Homo sapiens: one gene and its partner. The protein of the gene in region 1 purifies or fractionates together with the protein of each later gene. This does not show direct contact. Each region holds a gene or a part of one and is shown on either strand. Other genes may lie near its edges.

Region 1 (3,500 bases):
GTGGTGGGGAGGTGGGCAAGCATGTTCAAAACAGAGCATCAATAATAGTCTAAAACAGGTTGGCAAACTATACCCCAGGACTGCATCTGGCCTGCCACCTCTTTTTTTATGGCCCATACGGAATGGTTTTTACATTTTTCTAATGGTTGGGTAAAAAAAAAAGTCAAAAGGAGAATTTTGTGGCCAATCATGGGGGCTCATGCCTGTAATCCCAGCACTTTGGGAGGCTGAGGTGGGCTGATCACCTGAGCTCAGGAGTTCGAGATTAGCCTGGGCAACATGGTGAAACCCCATTTCTACAAAAAATACAAAAGTTAGCCAGCATGGTGGCAAACCTGTGGTCCCAGCTACTCAGGAGGCTGAGATGGGAGGATCACTTGAGCCTGGAAGGCAGAGGTTACAGTGAGCTGAGACCGTGCCATTGCATGTTCTCATGAGAGAACTGGGTGAGACTTGTGAGACCCCATCTCAAAAAAAGAAAGAAGAATTTTGTGACATGTGAAAATTACTATGAAATTCAAGTTTCTATGTTTCTGAATGAAGTTGTACTGGAATGCAGCCACAGTGGTTTGCTTGCATATTGTTTATACATTCTTGCTCTTGTGCTACAGTGGCAGAATTGAATAGTAGTAAGAGAGACTGTGATATGGTCCGCAAAGCCTAAAATGTTTACTATTTAGCCTTTTACAGAAAAAGTTTGCCAATTCGTGGTTTAAAAGCTTGTGTAGCCTCAGTGCTAGAATGAGAAGCCACTGATTTCAATAGTGATTTGCTCTAAGAATATTTTTCAATGAAAAGGTCCTCATATTTGTCGAGGCCATTCTTTTTATGGAAAGTTCTTTACCTTTGTTTACTTTTGATATGTGTTTAAGGAAGGAAAGGAAAATAGGTTAAATTTTACTGTCAGAAAAATGCAAATGTAAATAATAACATTTTATACTCATCACATTTAAAAAAAGGTAATTCTGAGTGTTTCCAGAGGCGAGGAGAAGCATCTTCCTGAGCACTCACACACTGCCAGTGAGAGGTGACTGGTAAAACCACCCCAGAGAGTAATGTGACAGTGTTAGAGATGTCGAGACACACACATACCATATTCTAGAAGTTTCCTGATTGGGATATATCCCAAAGACACCCACATGTGCACAAGGAGATGTATAACAGATTGTTTATCACTTTTTGTGAGCATGAAAAAGTAGGATTTTGAGACGGAGTCTAGCTCTGTTGCCCAGGCTGGAGTGCAGTTGCCTGGTCTCAGCTCACTGCAACCTCTGCTGCCCAGGTTCAAGCGATTCTCTTCTCTTAGCCTCCTGAGTAGCTGGGATTACAGGAGTGTGCCACCATGCCCATCTAATTTTTGTATTTTTAGTAGAGACATGGTTTCACCATATTGGCCTTGCTGTTCTTGAACTCCTAACCTCTAGTTAGCTGCCCACCTCAGCCTCCCAAAGGGTTGGGATTACAGGTGTGAGCCATTACACCCGGCCTAAAAGTAGGATTATTAATAGGAAAATGGGCAAATCGGTAGTGATATATTCATGCAATAGAATATTGCACAGCAGTGAAAATGAATGTACTAAAGCTTTGCATGGTAATATGGATAAATTGCACACTTTTTTTTGAGCAAGGAAAAGTGCATAATTAAATGTATATTGTGATAGTTATATCAAAATTTAAAACACTCACAGAAATATTGTTTTCTTCGTTATAAATATGCCATAACTATGAAAGAATACATGAGAGTGATGAAAACCATATTCAGGATGATGTTTACTCTTGGTATGTGTGGTATTTTAATTCTTTAAAAAAAAAAAAAAAAGTCTGGGCCTGGCACAGTGGCTCAAGCCCGTAATCCCAACACTTTGGAGGCCTAGGTGGGCAGATCACCTGAGGTCAGGAGTTCAAGACCAGCCTGGCTATTATGGTGAAACCCCATCTCTACTAAAAATACAAAAAATTAGCTGGGCATGGTGGCGCGTGCCTGTAATCCCAGCTATTCGGGAGGCTAAGGCAGGAGAATTGCTTGAACCCCGGAGGTGGAGGTTGCAGTGAGCCAAGGTCATGCCATTACACTCCAGCTTGGGCAACAAGAGCAAAGCTCCATCTCAAAAAAAAAAAAAAAAGTCTGCCACATATAAAGCAGAATGTAGGTTTGTTAAAAGCTATATGATAGGTGAAAGAGGGTTCATTATTTTATGCTCTTTATTTTTCTGTATCTGTAAACTAGATTATACAGATAAAAGTTGAGGACTTCTGTTTGCGTTGCCTTTTATTATGTTATAGAAGCTTCAAATTGTAGCTTAGATTAATTGCTTGGTCAGAAGAGTGTTAAAACTGGTGAGTGTTGACTTATGCTGTTTATAGATGCCTGACATTGTAGTAAGTCCTAGCTGTGGAGATTTTTGTTATCAGGCCCATCCCTATCCTTAATGTGTCTAAACAGTGAATTCCTGGCCCTACTGGAAAAGACCTCATCAACAGGCACACAGTCCTAAATATTTACTCTTTGTAAATATTTAAGTATGTACAGATAAATGAAATATTTTAATAGTATTTAAATACTTAAATACATGAAAAAGTCACCAGGATTCTATCACAGCAGTTAACTGAACAGGGCTTGTTTGAGGTCTGCTACTCCGTTTACAAAATCCTTAAATTCTACAACCTGGAAGAATTCACATAAAAACTTGCAGTTTTGATGCCTCAAAGTCAAGAACTCTGCTTTACAAAAAGAAGTTATCTAAATGTGATCAGTTAATATAGGGAAAGCACTGAACTTGACTAGTCATCAGGGATATGCAAATTGAAACTCCTGCGTGGCACCACTATACACCTACCAGAATGACTAGAATGGAAAGGCCTAAAAATCCCAGGGGCAGCTGTTGGAGTGTAAATTGGTACAACCACTTTGGAAAACTGTTCAGTAGTATCTGCTAAGGTGAACAGAAACATACCCTGTACCCAGCAGTGCCTCTTCTAGGCTTACGTTCAATATAAGGACTTATATTAGTCCACAAAAGACACGGACAAATATGTTCACAGAAGTACTATTCATAGTAACTGCAGACTGGAAAAGACTTAACATGTCATCAACTCTAAAATGGGCAAATAAATTGTGGTATATTCACATAAAATAATTTTTTACAGGCATGAGAATGAATGAGCTATAATCATATGCAACTGTATAAACAAATCCTGTAAGCATATTGTGGAGTGAATGAAGCCAGACAAGTAAATTATACATACTGTGTGCATATATTTATGTAGATAGGCAGAAATAATTATACATACTGCATGCATATGTTTACATAGATAGGCAAAAGTAATTATACATACCGCATGCATATATTTATGTAGACAGGTAAAAGTAATTTGGTACTTGGAGTCAGGACTCCTTGAGGGGAAGTGACTGGAAAGGGAAACATGGGGCAGTTCCCAGGGAGCTGGTAATGTTCTGTTTCTTGATCCGGGTGTTGGTTCCACTAGTGTGTTCAGTTTGT
Region 2 (3,500 bases), on another chromosome or scaffold:
TTTCTTTAAAACAATTTATCAGCATAAGTTCTCTCTTACACTGTTTTGAGGGAAATTTTTCAAATAAATGTTCACATTAGATGTGTTGCCACAGAATAGAAATTAGCATGAAACAGAGGATTATTTTCGCATCATTTTTTCCTCTACATATAATTTATTACAATTATACACTCAGAAAAGTATTTTTAAAATCCACAAGAAAACTAATTAGATTTAACAGACGTCAACATTTTTTTAAGTTTTGCTTTAATATTCATCTTTTAATCCAATAATTATTAATTTAAATTGTTATTATGATAATAATTCAGTCTTATTATTACTAAAAGTATTTGGGAAATTTAAAAAGTGGGACAAAAAGCTAACGATAGTCCTATGACAACTATTAACAGTTGAAAATACTTCCTATTTGTAAAATAAACATTTCCTTTATTTTTGACATTACTGGGTAATGTATGTTTCAAAAAATTAAAGCCTTCTGCCTCATTTTTAACAATTTTTGAAAATTGACAACTATGGCTTATCCTCATAACAAAAGCTATAGAAATAGCATCTATTATCACTTCTTAAGACTCATCTTCTCTACCATGAATGTCATAAGGAACAAACCAAAAAGTATCAGACTTTTCCTTCTATATTATACTTGTCACTTAATATCTTAATAATGCGTCAAATTGATTCCCCCATCTCTTTAATTCTCTGCTATTGTTAATGGCACAGAATCTTTCTTTCATGTAGTAGTTACTTAATAAATACTTGTTTATCCATTTATTTAGTAAAGGTTTCTAAAATAAGACATACTCATGAGGTTAAAAGATTTCATAAAAGATTAAGTTTAAACATAAGCTATAAATAAACCAAGTTATCTTATTAAAAAGGAAAGAGAGCTGGCAAGAACTTATTGTATATATTATGCTAAATATTAAAGGGTCATTTCACAGGGTGCCTGGGACCTGACTTTGGGTTCCATGAAAACAAAATTGCTAAGAAATGTTAAAGGAAATATAGCTCTAAGTGGAAAATAATTTGTCTCTAATTGATCGAATTTCAAATTTGGGAGAATTTAGCAGAACCAAAATCCAAACTCATGTGAGTATAGAGGCAATTTAACTTCATTAAAACCTAAATACAAAAGCTGATTCCAGAATGAATAATTAAATGTGGCTATGTGCTATGCTTCAGTAACATCTAATAGACCTTTGTGTGTTACACTATTAAAATAAATCAAGTAAAATTTTAATTGAAATGTTGTACTTTTAAAAGAAAATATCTACCCATAATTCTACCACTCTAAAAATTAATAGATAACTAGCAAAAATATATAAATTTTATAACTATGTAAAAACTACTTAGTTATATGGAACTTAAAAGCCTTGTAGGTAGTCCTTAAGGTATCATCACCATGAGCTGGAACAAATACATTGAGTAATAAATAAATAAATAGTTCATTCTCCTTTCTTTCAACTCTATTTCTTTAGAAGTTCTCTAACTTTAAATGATAACTCCTACAACTTTTATTTGATTCAAATGTTCATAACTCTTAATATTTGCTAGGCTGCATATTCGATACAACATTCTTCCCAGATTCATACATTTCTTTTTTGCAAATAGATGGTCTGTATTTGTTAGCACCTTTTTACTGCTCCCCTACTACATGCACATACACATGCACACACACATGTACAATTAATTCCTTACTATGGCAAATATTTTGTGACAGTCCCTTATGTTTAGTACCTCTCTTCAGCCTACATCACACTCCCTCTGACTGTGAGTCTTTCAAACTTCCCCCAACAGTAGGACCTTGAGCACACTTCATTTCTCCCTCTGTTAGAAAATTTTTATCTTTTTTCTCCACCTCATTAACCCTTCCTTCAGATGTCAGGTAAAATGTCACCTCCTCAAGGAGGCTTCCCCAGACCTCCCTGGCTGAGTCAAACTCCCCTCTAATAGGCTTCCCCATTACTGTGCATCTGGCCTTCATTATACTCACTTTTGCGTATGTGCACTGGCTTGTGTGATTATTTAATTAATTTCACAGAAATAAAAAGCTCCAAAGAGGCAGGAATCATGCCACATCTTTCACTCATCATTACATTACCAGGACCTAGCTGAGTGTTGAGCATAGAGTAGACTGCCAATAACTACATATTAAAGTATAGTAAAAAAGAAGGAAGAGATGCAAATTAATCATTATGTCAACAGATGACCTCACAGTTACTAGAAAAATTATTTAAATGGTCTCACTTGGTGATCTGAAAGATGACAGATTTGTAAAGAAAGTATCTCTGAAAATACATGTTTTATCTTCTTTCTTTTTTTCTCTCATTGTAATGGATGTAGCTTATGATTTAGTCCTGCTTTTCTTTCTCTTATTCATTTTTCTCTAGAGAAGGAAAGTCATAAATCTTAGGCCAGGCTCTCTTCAAAAGCAGAGTCTGAACTAAAAAATTATGTGCAAATAATACAAGGTGATCCCGGAGAGTAGGAGTGAGGCACCGGGTAAAGTGAACCAGGGAGAGAGTAAAGGCTAATACAGGTGCATGCAGTTGGGTCACTTCCATGGCCGGTTGAGGCTCCTTCTCACTTGGACCTTATGAGGAGCTGCAGAGTGCGTCTCGGAACTATCCACCCATTCCCACTGACTGCGAGGCTCCATGGTGGTGTTAGCTCCTCCTCACTTCCAGGCTGCATGGACCACGGTCAGAAGCAGGGGGAAAGATAAGACATGCTAGTAAAGTCACAGAAAAGAAAGTGAAAGATACTCAGCGCAAGCTTGAGATGGGAAATAGCACAACTGAGTCAAAGGCTGCCTACAATGATTGCCCGAGCCAGAGCCAGAAACAGATGTGAGATTGACAGGACATCCGGCAGGGTCCAAAAAGCATGTGATATACTTCATGAGAATCAGATCATTGCTCACCACAGTCAGCCCCAATGAGCCTCAATGTCAGTACCTAATTTATCACTCTCACCAAGCTTCCATTTATCTCCTGATGTGCCTCAGGACACTGAATTGAAGGCAGGCACAAGAATCTATTCCAGGCATTCTCCGACTTCCAATCATTGTGTCCCAAATAGTCAGTGATTTCTGGAATATGTTATCTGGAATATGTTACCTGCAACATACAAGTCACTCAAAAATAACATTACATGTAATAGTTCAATCCATCCGTCACCAGGCAGACTTAACAAAAATTCTAGGTCAATCCATAAAAGCACAGTTAATTTAAATCATATATCTCTAACAATCTACTTCAGGTATAACCTGAATTAACTATATTTCCGTGAATTGGTCTAGAAATACGTTCTGAGTTTTATCCATATACCAATAAGAAAAGAGATAAACATAGTACTAGCTTGTTAACACTATTGTATGTATTTCACAAGAAATCAGTCTGTATCAGTTGCTTTTCAGAGCCAACAGTTGGAAAAATAGGACAGTTGTTTCTAAGAAGAGGGAGACTCCAGACTTCACACATTTTTCACTCCATAAATGTAGC

The links. Proteins that work in one complex are often made in the same cells at the same time.
Region 2: the proteins of PHLPP2 (region 1) and MARCHF1 purify together in Homo sapiens (affinity purification with western blotting; one study listed by BioGRID). This does not show direct contact.

What each region holds. Positions count from the first base shown.
Region 1 is NC_000016.10:71,672,702-71,676,201, reverse strand, and holds part of PHLPP2 (PH domain leucine-rich repeat-containing protein phosphatase 2), read left to right. Parts: intron 1-3,500. UniProt on the Homo sapiens protein: Protein phosphatase involved in regulation of Akt and PKC signaling.
Region 2 is NC_000004.12:164,374,020-164,377,519, forward strand, and holds part of MARCHF1 (E3 ubiquitin-protein ligase MARCHF1), read right to left. Parts: intron 1-3,500. UniProt on the Homo sapiens protein: E3 ubiquitin-protein ligase that mediates ubiquitination of TFRC, CD86, FAS and MHC class II proteins, such as HLA-DR alpha and beta, and promotes their subsequent endocytosis and sorting to lysosomes via multivesicular bodies.